2 separate regions of the Homo sapiens genome follow, and region 1 is linked to region 2. Evidence: fine-mapped expression QTL. A gene starts in region 2. The other region holds a variant in brackets. All regions are shown on one strand. Distances are between the middles of the regions. Region 1 overlaps PLK1 (polo like kinase 1). Region 2 holds the start of DCTN5 (dynactin subunit 5).

Region 1 (8,256 bases), 52 kb before region 2:
TGAGTATGAACTCTAAGCAAATAATCCAGAGGAATGCTAAGGTGCAACTTGGTGTTTTCTCACTGATCCCTAATGCTGATTTTATTATTATTATTATTATTATTATTATTATTATTATTAATTATTGAGATAGGGTCTTGCTGTGTCACTCAGGCTGAAATGTAGTGGCGTGATCTCAGCTCACTGCAACATCTGCTTCCCAGGCTCAAGCCAATCCTCCCACCTCAGCCTACTGAGTAGCTGGATGACAGGCACACAACACCATGCCTGGCTAGTTTTTTTTGTAAAGATGGGGTTTCATCATGTTCCCAGGCTGGTCTTGAACTCAAGTGATCCACCTTTCCCGGCCTCCCAAAGTGCTGGGATTACAGGTGTGAGCCACGGTGCCCAGCCCTAATGCTGATTTTCATTTACTCTTCCCAGAGCTGATTGTAAAAACTGAAGCTAAAAACTCTTATAAAGTAGAGTGTTCTCAGGACCACCGCACTGCACAACTCTAGGGGTGCCATATATGTTTTGCCATATGAATAGTGCCCGTTGGAGCTGAGCAGGACACAGCCTGCCCAGATTTGCCAGGGTCAGAGTGAGACGTCTCTCACAGGCTGCCCAAAGGGAAGGGCAGTAATTGTCCCAACCTACAGATCTTTGCCCACCTGAGCCGACCCCACCCATCCTAATGGGAAACCGAGGCCTCTAGGGGTACCCCTGCTGCCCTGGAACTAACTCTGGGCAGGTTAGCATCCAATGCCCACTGCTTCTGTCCGGTCCAGTCTTTTTTCTGTGGCTATACTCACTCTCATCACTCTTCCAACTGCCAGAACTCACCTTACCTTGAAGTTGAAGCTGATTCAGTGTCAATTAAAAGGATTCAGTTACAACTGGTGGAGGTGGGCAGAATGGCAGAGGATGTAAAGGGAAAACAAAGCAAAACAAAACAAACCTGTGCAGAAGATGCTGAAAGAGGGAGAGAAATAAAAGAGGATAATATAGCAAACATCACCTCCACCCGTTCTTTCCATATATCCATTTAATCCTCACAATAATATTGTGTGGGCTCTTTAGCTTTAGCTCCCCACTCTACAGATGAGAATACCGAGGGCACAGAAGTGAGGAATTTGCCTAAGTAGACAAAGAATCAGTGGCAGCACCAGGCATTGGATCCAGACAGTCTGGCACTTGGGCCCTTGCTCTTACCCACTGCACCAGGCTGAGCATGGGAGGGTGGAGGCCCAGAAAATGTCAAGGTGAGTCTGGACTGGGCCAGTGGCCGGCAAAGGTGGGCAGAGGCTCCCTGAGTCACCACCCTCCTCTCCCCCAGCTGAGCAACTCACCGTAGTGGGGAAGATTTCCTTCAATCCCAAGGACGTGCTGGGCCGCGGGGCAGGCGGGACTTTCGTTTTCCGGTGAGTGGCAGCCAGGAGCCAAGCTGGGGACATGGCACTCACAGCCCTCGTGGGCACTGTCCCCTGGAGAGACATTCTTTCAAAGACTCCCCGAGGTGGGTACAGGTTGATCCCTCACTCGCCAGTCCTGCTCTTTCCTTTATCTGTTTTTTTTTTTTTTTTTTTTTTTTTGAGTCTTGCTCTGTTGCCCAGGCTGGAGGGCAGTGGTGCAATCTCAGCTCACTGCAACCTCCGCTTCCCAGGTTCAAGCAATTCCGGGCCTCAGCCTTCCCAGTAGCTGGGATTACAGGTGTGTATCACCATGCCCGGCTAATTTTTATATTTTTTTTAGTAGAGATGGGGGTTTCACCATGTTGGCCAGGCTGGTCTCGAACTCCTGACCTCAAGTGACCCGCCCGCCTTGGCCTCCCAAAGTGCTAGGATTACAGGTGTGAGCCACCATGTTTGTCCCTTTATCTGCTTTCCCTGAATGCCCCCCTGCCCCCGCCATCACCCACTTTCCAGGGGACAGTTTGAGGGACGGGCAGTGGCTGTCAAGCGGCTCCTCCGCGAGTGCTTTGGCCTGGTTCGGCGGGAAGTTCAACTGCTGCAGGAGTCTGACAGGCACCCCAACGTGCTCCGCTACTTCTGCACCGAGCGGGGACCCCAGTTCCACTACATTGCCCTGGAGCTCTGCCGGGCCTCCTTGCAGGAGGTGAGTTGCATTGCGGTTCAGGGAGGGTGAGTGGGAAGGTCCGGGCTGGAGAGTGATGCTTTGGCCCTTGCTGCTGCTCAGTACGTAGAAAACCCGGACCTGGATCGCGGGGGTCTGGAGCCCGAGGTCGTGCTGCAGCAGCTGATGTCTGGCCTGGCCCACCTGCACTCTTTACACATAGGTACCCGCACTTCCCCTGCCTCCCGCTCCCTGTCCTTAGCCCCTGCCTTCCGCCCTCAGCAACCAGCTTTCTTTCTGCCCCTCTCCCACAGTGCACCGGGACCTGAAGCCAGGAAATATTCTCATCACCGGGCCTGACAGCCAGGGCCTGGGCAGAGTGGTGCTCTCAGACTTCGGCCTCTGCAAGAAGCTGCCTGCTGGCCGCTGTAGCTTCAGCCTCCACTCCGGCATCCCCGGCACGGAAGGCTGGATGGCGCCCGAGCTTCTGCAGCTCCTGCCACCAGACAGTCCTGTGAGTCTATCCACCAAGTCCTCCAGGCACACAGCTGCCCCAGGCTGCAGGAATCCGTCCCTGTCCCAGTTCCCCTCCTGAGGAGACTCCATGACACTTGCTGTGTGACTTTGAGCTGCTCCTCCAAGCTTGTTTCCCTTAAAGAAGGGATAATTTGTCCCTCCTTCTACAGCAGTATCAGGACTGTTTTGCCACCCAGGGGACATTAGGCAATGTCTGGAGACATTTTTGACTGCCATGACTTGGGAGGGAGGGGCTACTGGCATCTGCTGGAAATGCTGCTAAATGTCTTACAGGACAGGACAACACCCAACACAAAGAACTAACAAAATGCCAGTTGTGCTGAGGTTGGGAAACCCTGAGCTAGAAAATGGTTTGTAATCTTCACTGTGCTTCACAACCACTGCGCAACTTAAAAAAAGAATGCCCATTGCCGGGTGCGGTGGCTCACGCCTGTAATCCCAGCACTTTGAGAGGCCGAGGCAGGCAGATTGCTTGAGCTCAGGAGTTCGAGACCAGCCTGGGTAACCTAGGGAGACCTCGTCTCTACCAAAAGCACACACAATTTAGCCGGTGTGGGTGTGTGCATCTGTGGTCCCAGCTACTTGGGAGGCTGAGGTGGGAGGATCGCTTGAGCCTGGGAGGTGGAAGTTCCAGAGTCAAGATCACACTACTGCACTCTAGCCTGGACAACAGAGTGAGACTCTTTCTCTCAAAAAACAAAAAACAAACAAACAAACAAAACCCCAGGCCCCACACCCCGTGATTTTTACCTAATTGCCTGGGTCATTTTTATGTGGAGCCAAGTTCCAGAACCACTGGTATCGAAGGTTTTGGAGGGCATCAGATGAGCTAATTAGTTGATACACAGAGCAGCGTCTGACCCACACAGACACTTGCGTTTGGGACCCCTGAATTACGGATTTTGAGTCACAGTGTGTGGGCGGAAGTTGAAGCCAGAGAAATGGATGCCAATCACACAAAAGGACAGTCACCAGGGAAGGCTGCCCCCACTCCTAAAGTTGAGAGAAAGCTCAAAGTGGTGAGCAGGGCTCAAGGACTAAATGCATGATGTCATGAGACTATACAGTTTATATTTAAATTAGTGGCCTATATATATATATATTTTTTTTTTTTTGAGATGGAGTTTCGCTCTTGTTGCCCAAGCTGGAGTGCAGTGACATGATCTCAGCTCACTGCAACCTCCACCTCCTGGGTTCAAGTGATTCTCCTGCCTCAGCCTCCCTAGTAGCTGGGACTATAGGCAGGTGCCACCATGCCCAGTTAATTTTTGTATTTTTAGTAGAGATGGGGTTTATGCCATGTTGGCCAGGCTGGTCTCGAACTCCCAGCCCTCAGGTGATTCACCTACCTCGGCCTCCCAAAGTGCTGAGATTATAGGCATGAGCCACTGTGCTTGGCCCTATATATATATATTTTTGAGACAGGGTCTTGCTCTGTCATGGAGTGCAGTCATACCATCACAGCTTACTGCAGCCTTAAACTCCTGGGCTCAAGGGATCCTCTCACCTCAGCCTCCCAAGTAGCTGGGACTACAGGCACACAACATGGCACCCAGCTAATTTTTGTATTTTTTTGTAGAGGCAGGGTCTCACCATGTTGCCCACGCTGGTCTTGAACTCCTGGCCTCCCAAAGTGCTGGGATTACAAGGTGTCAGCCACATGCCTGGCCCAATATTTTAACATTTGAGAAATTCCACATAAAATTTGGATTTCTGGATTTTCTTTAAAAAAAAAAAAAATCAGAATCGCTTGAGGCCAAAAGTTCAAGATCGGGCTGGGTAACATAAGAAGACCCATCTCTACAAACAATTTAAAAATTGGTCAGGCATGGTGGCACATGCCTGTAGTCCCACCTACTCAGGCCGAGGTAGATTGCTTGAGCCCAGGAGTTTGAGGTTACAGTGAGCTGTGGTTGCGCCACTGCACTCTAGCCTGGGCAACATGAGCAAAGCCCCAACAAAAAAAAAAACAAAATCAGCTCTGCCACCCTGGAGAGTCCCCTGGTGACAACCGGTTGAAGCTAAGGACCAGCTGCCCCTGCAGAAAAAACCCATGCCAGGTCACCACAGTCCTCCTGATTGCCTTATTGCCTCATGTATGGCACCCACTTATGTAACCCTATACCCTGCAGGAATGAAGCTTGGAAACCTGAACTAGCTCAGTAAGGGCAAAGGTTTTGGATGAAAACCATGGGCCCCCTATAGTAGTGTAGAGGGGAGGGATCTAGAGCCAAGGAGATGCTGCCCAGGAAGCATCTTGAGTTC[C/A]AGTCTGAGCCAAACCCCTGGCAGCTCTATCAGCCCATGGGAGAATTTAGCCAGGCTGACTTCCTGGAAGCAGAGATTTCCTTCTCATGCCCATCTCTCTGGCTCCAGACCAGCGCTGTGGACATCTTCTCTGCAGGCTGCGTGTTCTACTACGTGCTTTCTGGTGGCAGCCACCCCTTTGGAGACAGTCTTTATCGCCAGGCAAACATCCTCACAGGGGCTCCCTGTCTGGCTCACCTGGAGGAAGAGGTCCACGGTGAGGGAGCCCTGGGCAGGGCAGAGAAGGGAGGACGGGCAAGACGCTAGGCAGGCCTGAAGCAGACTCTCCTCCTCCTCTTCCATCCTCCAGACAAGGTGGTTGCCCGGGACCTGGTTGGAGCCATGTTGAGCCCACTGCCGCAGCCACGCCCCTCTGCCCCCCAGGTGCTGGCCCACCCCTTCTTTTGGAGCAGAGCCAAGCAACTCCAGTTCTTCCAGGTCAGAAGGAAAGCTTGGGAATGGCCCCCAAAAGTCCTAAGTTTGGGTCCTGGGCAATAAGAAATGGGATATTAGATTAGCTGAGGGAAAACAGGAAGAGCTACCTGGTCCTGGGAGCCTGGCTCTTTCCCTAAACTGGGAGCCAGCCTGGACTCCTAAACTCCGCCATCTTGGCACTCTCTGGTCCATTCACTGCCAGCTTTGCCAGCCCCAGCTGCCCTTTGTATGGGAATATAGCCCATTCCTTTCCACCCGAGTCATCATTCATGCTGTGCCAGTAGCCCACTGCACTTGAGTGAACTTGAGCAAGAGACTTCATGCCTCTGAACTGCAGTTTGCTCAATCTGTAGAATAGGGACAGCAGTACCAAGCTCATAGGTTGGTGGTAAATAACAGAGGCGTGGCACAGAGAAGCTTCACGCCCCCAGAGGCAATGATCCTTGTCAGTCACCCTAAACTACTCCTGTAAGACAACACACTCCTGGCTATGTGGCCTCTGGCCCCGGTCACAAGGCTCAGGAGCTCTCTGGGCCCCAGGACGTCAGTGACTGGCTGGAGAAGGAGTCCGAGCAGGAGCCCCTGGTGAGGGCACTGGAGGCGGGAGGCTGCGCAGTGGTCCGGGACAACTGGCACGAGCACATCTCCATGCCGCTGCAGACAGGTAGAGGCCATACTCAGGTGGGCCTGGGCGGTGGAGGGGAGTGGGCCTGGGCGGTGGAGGGGAGTCTAGCAGGGACGGTTTTGCCACTGAATTCCCTGTCCACAGATCTGAGAAAGTTCCGGTCCTATAAGGGGACATCAGTGCGAGACCTGCTCCGTGCTGTGAGGAACAAGGTATGTGTTGGGGCCTGGGTGGGCCTGGGTCTTGGGAAGGCCTGGCCGCAGCTGAGCCAGGGTTCTCTGCTCTACCTACCCACAGAAGCACCACTACAGGGAGCTCCCAGTTGAGGTGCGACAGGCACTCGGCCAAGTCCCTGATGGCTTCGTCCAGTACTTCACAAACCGCTTCCCACGGCTGCTCCTCCACACGCACCGAGCCATGAGGAGCTGCGCCTCTGAGAGCCTCTTCCTGCCCTACTACCCGCCAGACTCAGAGGCCAGGAGGCCATGCCCTGGGGCCACAGGGAGGTGAGGTGGGCTGGATGCCACACAGATGGTCTCCGTGCTGGCTCACTGAAGAGCTGAGCCTGTGGCTGGCCTCAGAATCAGGCTGGGTGCAGTGGCTCACACCTGTAATCCCAGCATTTTGGGAGGCTGAGTGAGAGGATCACTTGAGCTCAGGAGTTCGAGACCAGCCTGGCCAACATGGCAACACCCCATTTCTACAAAAAATTTGTAAAATTAGCCAGGCATGGTGGCGCACGCCTGTAGTCCCAGCTGCTTGGGAGGCTGAGGTGGGAGAATCACTTGAGCCCAGGAGTTCGAGGCTGCAGTGAGCCAGGATCATGCCACTGCACTCCAGCCTGGTCCACAGAGAGACACTGTCACCCCCTTTCCCCCACAAGACTGGCAGAGGCTGGGCAGCCTGGGGCTGATGAAGCAGAGATGTTCGCTGGATCCCAGGCCCTGGCACCCCTCAGGAAATACAAGAAAAAGAATATTCACATCTGTTTAATGTGCATAAAGCCAAGGAAAGGACAGTTCCGAATTCAATAGAAATATTCTGTACAATTCATATGGTGGGGTTGAGGGGGAGGGGGACAAGGCTGTAGAACCCACACCCGAACATGTACAAAAATAACTTATACAGCAACCCCCACCTGCAAGGATGATGCAGCTCTGCCCAGCCACCGGGGCTGGGGGGCACACTGCAGACATGGCACCGCGGGAGCCAACCAGTATGGGCCCCAGATGCAGGTGGGAGTGAGGAGGGCACCAGTCCGGAGGGGAGGGCAGCTATTAGGAGGCCTTGAGACGGTTGCTGGCCGAGCGTGAGCTCAGCAGCTTGTCCACCATAGTGCGGGCGTAGCGGAGCCGGCTGGCCAGCTCCTTGCAGCAGCCGTACTCCTCCAGGAGACTCAGGCGGTATGTGCGGAAGTCCCGCTTCTCGTCGATGTAGGTCACGGCTGCCATCAGTGGGCACAAGATGAGCTTGGTGTGATCCTGCAAGAGAAGAGCAGCAGGGGTTGGCGATCCCAGAGGCCAGTGTATGTTAGGGAGTAGAGGGAAGACACAACAGGTTATAGGTACCTGAGCCGCTCACTCCACATTCAACCCACATGGGCCACTGCCAGGCATGCGGAGCCTACCCCAGCTCTCTCCTGCGCCTGGTGACCTCCAGCTCACCTGGAAGAAGTTGATCTGCACGCTGCCGTTGCTGAGGTGCAGGATGATGGCGCTGCGGGTGCGGAACCAGGTCCGTAGGTAGGGCAGCCGGGCGAGCTCATCACCTTCGCGCGGCGTGATGTTGGCACCTGCCTTCAGCAAGTGCTCGCTCATGTAATTGCGGAAATATTTAAGGAGGGTGATCTGGATGAAAAGTAGGTAAGGGGTTCCAGAATTAGAGTCTGATCCTCCAGCACAGGTCCCACTTCTGCAACACCACCCCCCATGGGCCGGACGGCACTCACCTTCTTCATCAAGGAGTTGGGATGGGAACTCACGGTGAGGTAGGACTCAGTGCCGTCACGCTCTATGTACTGCAGGCTGTCACCATCATTGTAGAGGATGAGGCGTGTTGAGTCATTGAAGAGCACCCCCACGCTGTTATCACAGAGCTGATACCCTAGGGATCGGTGGAGAGAGGTCTCAGAAAGGGGGAATAGAAAGTGGGGAGTGGGACCGGGCGTGGTGGCACATGCCTGTGATTCCAGCACTTTGGGAGGCTGAGGGAGGAGGATTGTTTGAGCCCAGGAGTTTGAGACCAGCCTGGGCAACGTAATGAGACCCCATCTCTACAAAATATTTTAAAAATTAGCTGAG
Region 2 (8,375 bases):
GAACCTTGAAAACCTTACACTAAGTGAAATAAGCCAGACAAAAAGGACAAATATTGTATGATTCCACTTATATGAAATATCCAGAATAGGCAAATTCATAGAGACAGAAAGTAGATTCAGGCTATCAGCAATGGAAGGAAGTAGGGAATGGGCGTGTATTCCTTAATGTGTAGAGTTTTTATTTGGGGTGATGAAAAAATTTTGGAAATGGATAGTGGAGATGGTTGCACAACATTGTGAATGTAATTAATGCAACTAATTGTACACTTAAAAATTGGTAAGGCTGGGCGCAGTGGCTCATGCCTGTAATTCCAGCACTTTGGAAGGCCAAGGAGGGCAGATCACCTGAGGTCGGGAGTTCGAGACCAGCCTGATCAACATGGAGAAACCCCGCCTCTATTAAAAATATAAAATTAGCTGGGCATGGTGGCACATGCCTGTAACTGGGGAGTCTGAGGCAGGAGAATCACTTGAACCTGGGAGGCGGAGGTTGTGGTGAGCCGAGATCGTGCCATTGCACTCCAGCCTGGGCAACAAGAGCAAAACTGCGTATTAAAAAAAAAAAAAATATATATATATATATATATATATATATATATATATATATATATATATATATATAGTTAGGCTGGGTGCAGTGGCTCACACTTGTAATCCCAGTACTTTGAGAGGCCAAGGCAGGTGGATCACTTGAGGCCAAGAGTTTGAGACCAGCCTGGCCAACGTGGCAAAACCCTGCCTCTACTAAAAATACAAAAATTAGCCCAGTGTAGTGGCGTGCACCTGTAGTCCCAGCTACACAGGAGGCTGAGGCATGAGAATCCTTGAAGCCAAGAGGCGGAGGTTGTGGCGACTGAGATGGCGCCGCTTCACTCCAGCCTGGGCAACTGTCTCAAATAATAAAAATTTTTAAAAAATTGTTAAAATGGCAAATTGTTATACATAGTTCACCATAAGAAAAAAAATCTTGGGCTGGGCGTGGTGGCTCATGCCTGTAATCCCAGCACTTTGGGAGGCTGAAGTGGATGGATCATCTGAGGTGAGGAGTTCAAGACCAGCCTGGCCAATATGGTGAAACCCTGTCTCTACTAAAAATACAAAAATTAGGCCAGGCGCGGTGGCTCACGCCTGTAATCCCAGCACTTTCGGAGGACAAGGCAGGTGGATCACGAGGTCAGGAGATTGAGACCATCCTGGCTAACACGGTGAAACCCCATCTCTGATAAAAATACAAAAAATTAGCTGGGCATGGTGGTGGGTGCCTGTAGTCCTAGCTACTCAGGAGGCTGAGGCAGGAGAATGGCGTGAGCCTGGGAGGCGGAGCTTACAGTGAGCCAAAATCGCACCACTGCACTCCAACCTGGGCAACAGGGCGAGACTCCATCTCAAAAAAAAAAAAAAAAAAAAAAAATTAGGTGGGCATGATGGCGGGAGCCTGTAATCCCAGCTACTCTGGAGGCTGAGGCAGGAGAATCACCTGATGCCAGGAGGTGGAAGTTGCAGTGAGCCAAGATCGCGCCACTGTACTCCGACCTGGGTGACAGAGCAATACTCTGTCTCAACAAAAAAGGAAAAAAAAGAAACAGTATGTCTGAGCAGCAATTACTGAATTATATTTCTTTTCCACTTAATTCCTTGGTATGACAGGCTTAATGGAGACTAATTATCTTCTACTGAAAATATTTGTGATCTCTTGGTTATAAGGAGACTATTTTCCTTCTGGAAGTTAGAGATGTAATATTTAAAGAAAAATTAATTTCAAAATTGAGTGTTCCAGATGGCAGGAAAACAACTGTGAACTTCACTGTTTGTCAAGCTCAAATATACCCTGTGATATTTTCTCTTCCAAGTTTATACTCGTCTCTTTGCTATTGTAATTTATTTGGATTACAAGATTCTCAGGCTTTCAGATTCCACTTTGCATATTTGTCTCATACTTTAATATCTTTTCCAATTGTCACATTCGTTTTAAGAGTTTCAGTTAATAGTGAATTATTAATTTTTACTAAAGAGATAATTTTATAAGTATTACTTTAGTTTCTACCTTCAAATATTTCATTACCTGTTACACTTTGTGCCCAGTAGTTTAATGCACACTATATCATAAAATAATGTTGGTTCTAGGTACCACTGTATTTTGTTCCTGGCATAAAAGAAAAAAGGTTTTCTGTTGCCTCTTATTGAACCTTTTTGCATTCAAGAGATCCAACTTAGGCTGGGTGCAGTGGCTCACACCTATAATCCCAGCACTTTGGGAGGCCGAGGTGGGTGGATCACTTGAGGGCAGGAGTTCAAGACCAGCCTGGCCAACATGATGAAACCCTGTCTCTACTAAAAATACAAAATATTAGCCGGGCTTGGTGGCAGCTGCCTGTAATCCCAGCTACTCGGGAGGCTGAGGCAGGAGAACTGGTTGAACCTGGGAGACGGAGGTTGCAGCGACCTGAGATGGGGCCACTGCACTCCAGCCTGGGCGACAGAGTGAGACTGTCTCAAAAAAAACCGAAACAAAAAAAAAACAAAAAGGAGATCCAATTTACAAAATAAAAAATTTAAAAACAAGAGAATTAAAAATGTAAACAATAAATAGGAGATATGGCAACATTTTATCTGCCCTGCTGTGGTGACAATTAGCAGAACGCAAGCTAAGGTTTGCAGCCTGGAGCTGGCTTTGTCCCTTACCTTGCCATTGAGAACGATGTTCTGGCTTCCACACAACACTGACTGGCGACTGACTTTGTTCCCAGATGCCTAAAAGAAAACAACGGAAAACCGGGGAAAGCAAACTTAATAGGTTTCTGGACTACAGGTTTCCATCAAGAAAGCTCCCATTTGAGAGAAAAAAACATAAAGTGGGGTGCTGTCCACAATGGAGTGAGTCCAGGATATCAAAAAAGCAATGATGGATTAGGAAACTATGGCTGAGTATGGTGGCTCATGCCTGTAATCTCAGCACTTTGAGAGGCTGAGGCAGACGGATCCCTTGAGGACAGGAGCTCAAGACCAGCCTAGGCAACATAGTGAGACCCCTTCTCAACAAAAAAAAAATTTTTTAATTAGCCGGGCATGGTGGCGCGTGTCTGTAGTCCCAGCTCCTCAGAAGGCTGAGGCTAGAGGATCGCTTGAGCCTGGAAGGCCGAGGCTGCAATGAGCTGTGATTGTGCCACTGCACTCCAGCCTGGGCAACAGAGTGAGAACCTGTCTCAAAAAATAAAAACACAAAGGAAACTAGGGACTCAAGGAATAAACTCATAATTTGAATGTCTATAGCTTGGTGGCATCAGACAGACGCGGATTCAAATCCCACTTCCACGCGTGGGCTTTACGGCCTTAAAACGAGGATAATGACTATGAGTATCAGAGTTGTGAGAAAGCAAAGAAAACCAAAATAACGATAGTAACGTTAATTGACCACTTGCCCTGTTTCCAAGATTTTACAAACATATCATGTACTGATCATAAAGAACCAAATCGGCAGGGTGCGGTGGCTCACGCCTGTAATGCCAGCACTTTGGGAGGCCGAGGCGGGTCGATCACCTGAGGTCAAGAGTTAGGGACCTGCCTGGCCAACACGGTGAAACCCCGTCTCTACCAAAAAATACAAAAATTAGCCGGGCGTGGTGGCGGGCGCCTGTAATCCCAGCTACTCGAGACGCTGAGGCAGGAGAATCGCTTGAACCCGGGAGGCGGAGGTTGCAGTGAGCAGAGATCGCGCCGCGGCCCTCAGGACTGGGCGACAGAGTCTCCGCCCCCCAACCCCCTTCCTCAAAAAAAAAGAACCGAATCGTTTTTAGCGCAAGTTAACAGATACAAAAGGCAGTGTAAAAGGGCCCGAAGTCCGAGCTGTAATTCGTATGAACAGGATGGGACTTGTCCTATCCTCCCGAAGGCACTTTACCCCTATGAGAAAATCAGGAATAAATACAAAAGGCCTCAACTGGCCAAGCGCGGAGTAAACAGCAAAGCCAGACGGTACACGGGGCATCGCTAGATAATCCGGGACTAATGGCCAAAGGGACAGGGGTTGGTGGGGTAGGGGCAGGTTGGGAACGCCGACCAGGCCTCAAAGGGACGCAGGGTTGGAAAGAGGAGGATACATATCTGGACCCGCGCACCGTCTCGATGTACTCAGACTTGTTGTAGAGCAGCTCGCCCAACTCCATGGCCGCCGCCTCCTTCCCTCAGCCCCGGATCCTGTCAGAGTCAGTCGGTCAGTCTTTCAGAGATTCCGGCTACTTCCGGCCGCTCCTCCACTTCCGCTCCAGGTGGCCCACTGGGACTCATCGACAGCGCGGCTCTCCTTTAGGCGGCCTCGCTCCACTGCTCGGCCGTCTACGGCTGCGCGTGCGCAGGCCGAATGGTGGATTTAATTGGCCGGAGTTTAGGGCGCGCTTGGCCCGCGTGGGTCAGCTGATCGCGCACTGAGGGTGCGATCCCGGGCTCCCCATTCCTTCCTGGGGCGCCTCCCCGGCCCAGGGCCAACTGGGTCCCGGTGTCGGCAGGCCTGGGGTCGGCGACGGCTGCTCTTTTCGTTCTGTCGCCTGCCCGATGGACGAGCCTCCCGGGAAGCCCCTCAGCTGTGAGGAGAAGGAAAAGGTGCCGGGGGTGCGGGAAGGGCGGACGCAGGACTCTGACCCCGCTTTCCCAGGGTTTTAGGCCTGGCTTTGTGTCCTCGGCAGTCCGAGGGCAGCAGTATCATCTGACCACCCCCTCCTCTTAGGGCTGAGGGGGCACAGAAAATGAAAATGTGGAAATAGCGTGGTGCTCACGTGGTGGCGTTTAAAGAACAAATTTCATTACAGTAGCAGCGCATTAATACAATGTGTAACAGTTTGTAGATAAAGCTGTATCGACACCCTTGCTCCTCCCCCCTCCCACACCCTCAATCTTTACTTCTCCCCCCGGACGGCCTCAAGTAAATCTTTTAAGTCTGGTACTTCCAGGTCCTTTCGTGTGTTAATGTGGGTGGTGGAGGAGGGGCGTATCCCTAACCACCAAAAAGGAATCCTATGTATATTTTTTGGAGAAGGGAATGTTCATAAATGGTATGATCTGAATGGTTCTGCAGGTTCCGTTTAGCTTTCCTGTCAGGACATGTTTATCTACCTTGCTTTCTTTTTTAAGTTCTAGACAGTATGTTGTAGTTTGGAAGTGCCCTCGTTTTGTTTCTTTTTTCTTCCTTTTCTGTTTTTCTTCTTTTTTGAGACAGAGTCTCACTCTGCCACCCATGCTGGGGTGCAGTGGCGCGATCTCGGCTCACTGCAACCTCCGCTTCCTGGGATCAAGCGACTCTCCTGCCTCAGCCTCCCGAGTAGCTGGGATTACACGAACCCGCCACTGCACCTGGCCTTGGAAGTGCCCTTGCTTCTTTAGACTGTACTTTACTGATAGACTTTTAGGATGTTTCCAGCTTGTGCTGATGTTATTCTTATCCTGGCTTACCTTCTGGTGGAGGTGAGAAAGATCATTTATAAGTAAACAAGATAATCCCCAGACATTGATAAGATTGGTGGGAGGCCAGTCTCCCTGGCTCACGCCTGTAATCCCCGCACTTTGGGAGGCCGAGATGGGCAGATCGCTTGAGCTCAGAGTTTGAGACCAGCCTAGGCAACGTAGTGAAACCCCGTCTCTACTAAAAATACAAAAATTAGCCGGGTGTGGTGACGCCAGCCTGTAGTCCCAGAGGCTCAGGCCTCAGAGGCTGATGCACGAGAATCGCTTGAACCAGGGGACGCTGAGGTTGCAGGGAGCTGCCGAGATCGCGCCACTGCACGCCAGGCTGGACGACAGAGTGAGACTGTCTCTCAAAAAAAAAGAAAATTCCTTACGGTTGGCAACTTGTCTAGTAGCATGTTTTGCACATAGGTTTTGTTTTGTTTGTTTTTGAGACAGACTCTCCGCTCTATCTCCCAGGCTGGAGTGCAGTGGCTCGATCTTGGCTCACTGCAACCTCCGCCTCTCAGGTTCAAGCGATTCTCCTGCCTCAGCCTCCCGAGTAGTTGGGATTACAGACGCCCAACACCACGCCGGGCTAATTTTTGTATTTTTAGTAGAGACAGGGTTTCTCCATGTTGGCCAGGCTGGTTTTGAACTCCTGACCTCAGGTAATCTGCCCGCCTTGGCCTTCCAAAGTGCTGGGATTACAGGTGTGAGCCACTGCACCCGGCCTTTTTTTTTTTTTTTTTTTTCAAGCAGAGTCTCGCTCTGTTGCCCAGGCTGGAGTGCAGTGGCGTGATCTAGGCCCACTGCAACCTCCGCCTCCGGGTTCAAGCAATTCTCCTGCTTCAGCCTCCTACAGGCACCCACCACCACACCCGGCTCATTTTTGTATCTTTAGTAGAAGCAGGATTTCACCATGTTGGCCAGGCGGGTCTCGAACTCTTGACCTCAAATGATCCACCCACCTCAGCTTCCCCAAGTGTTGGGATTACAGGCGTGAGCCACTGCGCCCAGCTGAGTAGGTCTTTTCTTTTTTTTAAAAAAGGCATGTATGGAGGATGGAAATCTTGATGTTTTGTTGGTTGAAAGATGAGTACAGCTAAAAAGTTGCTAAAAAGCAGAAAAACCGAGGCTGGCTTTGCTGCTGAGAGAATCCTTTGAAGCAAAGAAGCCAGAGAGACGAGGGAATCTAGGCTTTCAGAGAACAGTAATTTGATTCAGCCCAATTCATTTATTTATTTAATAAATATTTGTTAAATGCCTACTGTGTGCCTGGCTGGAGATTGAGCAATGATAGCTCCAACCTCACTGGCCTTCTGCGTGTTCCTCAAACGTAGGTAACCTATTCCACTGCAGAGCTTTTATATTTGTGGTTCCCTCTGCCTGGGGTACCGTTCCCTCTGATCTTCCCAAAACTAGCTCCTTCCTCATTCAGTCTTAGGCTCAAATGATAGTCAAAAATGCCTCCCTGACCACTGTAACTAAAGTAGTCCCTGTCAGTAGGCCAGTAACTCTCTCATATCACTCTGTTTATCTGTGTATTTTTTTACCTTGTAAAATCATTTCTGTTTGTTTTCTTATTTATTATCTGTCTCCCTCACTGTATGTAAATTGCATCTAGAATAGCATCTGGAGCACTAATTGACACATAGTGGGTATCAATTATTATTCCAGGTACTAGAGATACCTGGACCATTAACGGATAAATAGAAGATTCATTTGTTGAGTGACTGAGGATGGCAGTTCCTGCTACCTTCAAGGATCTGGATGATGGGGAGAAACAGAGAACATAGTGTGAGAATACTGTGGTAAGGAAAGTACAGAGGACTGGTAGAGTGTCTAACCTAGATTTGGAGAAGGACCTAGAAGTCTATCCCAGGGAAATAAAAATCTAAGCTAAGGTTTGAGGAATCAGTAGGAATTGGCAAAGGAAGGACATGTTCCAGATGATAGGAACAGGTTATGCAAAGATCCTGAAATGGTCAGAGCTTGGTGCTTTTTGAGAACCAAAAGTAGATTGTTATGGACCAGTGCTACTCCCTGCCTCTTGCCAAGGGACCCCGCCAAGCACTGCATCCCTTCCCTCTGACTCCACCTTTCCACTTGCCCAGTATTGTTGGTGTTTTTCTTCTTCCAGTTAAAGGAGAAATTAGCATTCTTGAAAAGGGAATACAGCAAGACACTAGCCCGCCTTCAGGTAAGTGAATCGTATTCTCAAATTAAGGTGTTATAGTACAAACAATTTAAAAACAGTTCTTGACTCTATAAAACTTTAAAGAAAACGTATTTCTGGGGCTGTTTTTGTCTCCTCTAGCGTGCCCAAAGAGCTGAAAAGATTAAGCATTCTATTAAGAAAACAGTAGAAGAACAAGATTGTTTGTCTCAGCAGGATCTCTCACCGCAGCTAAAACACTCAGGTAAATCTAGACCATTCACTTATGCCTGCTTTATTATTCATTTCCCAGGTATATTTTGGCTATTGTTCTTTTTCCCACAGTGTGAAGATAATGACTAGCAATAGACGCTTTAATTTTAATTTTAATTTTAATTTTATTTTTTTGAGACAGAGTCTCACTCTTTGTTACCCAGGCTGGAGTGCAGTGGCACAATCTTGGCTCACTACAACCTCCAACTCCCAGGCTCAAGTGATTCTCGTGCCTCAGCCTCCTGAGTAGCTGGGACTACAGGCACGTGCACTACCACACCTGACTAATTGTTATATTTTTAGTAGAGATGGGGTTTCGCCATGTTGGCCAGGCCGGTCTTGAACCCCTGGCTTCAAATGATCTGTCTGCCTGGGCCTCCCAAAGTGCTGGGATACAGGTGTGAGCCACTGTGCCCGGCTGCAATATATTCTAATTAACATAAAATTCATATGCCGTAAAATCTATAGTCTCTATTTTCAGTTAGACTGTTTATTCTTTTTCCCTCTCTTG

Evidence for each region.
Region 1: its variant is fine-mapped to the expression of DCTN5 in whole blood (TOPMed, PIP 0.99).

What each region holds. Positions count from the first base shown.
Region 1 is chr16:23,689,041-23,697,296 of GRCh38, reverse strand. It overlaps PLK1 (polo like kinase 1), which reads right to left. Exons shown (of 10, transcript NM_005030.6): 8 at 7,905-8,059; 9 at 7,621-7,803; 10 at 6,930-7,437. The coding sequence ends at 7,234. It overlaps ERN2 (endoplasmic reticulum to nucleus signaling 2), which reads left to right. Exons shown (of 22, transcript NM_033266.4): 14 at 1,319-1,403; 15 at 1,908-2,097; 16 at 2,179-2,278; 17 at 2,370-2,569; 18 at 4,966-5,113; 19 at 5,207-5,334; 20 at 5,872-5,995; 21 at 6,101-6,168; 22 at 6,254-6,987. The coding sequence ends at 6,466. Among named protein-coding and RNA genes, the nearest start is that of PLK1, 14 kb to the right of the region's middle. The variant C/A (reference allele first, on the strand shown) is at 4,858.
Region 2 is chr16:23,637,331-23,645,705 of GRCh38, reverse strand. DCTN5 (dynactin subunit 5) reads right to left here and starts at 4,240. Exons shown (of 6, transcript NM_032486.4): 1 at 4,116-4,240; 2 at 2,683-2,751. The coding sequence starts at 4,163. PALB2 (partner and localizer of BRCA2) reads left to right here and starts at 4,396. Exons shown (of 13, transcript NM_024675.4): 1 at 4,396-4,596; 2 at 7,577-7,636; 3 at 7,754-7,856. The coding sequence starts at 4,549. RefSeq lists an enhancer at 3,178-3,967 and a silencer at 5,095-5,329.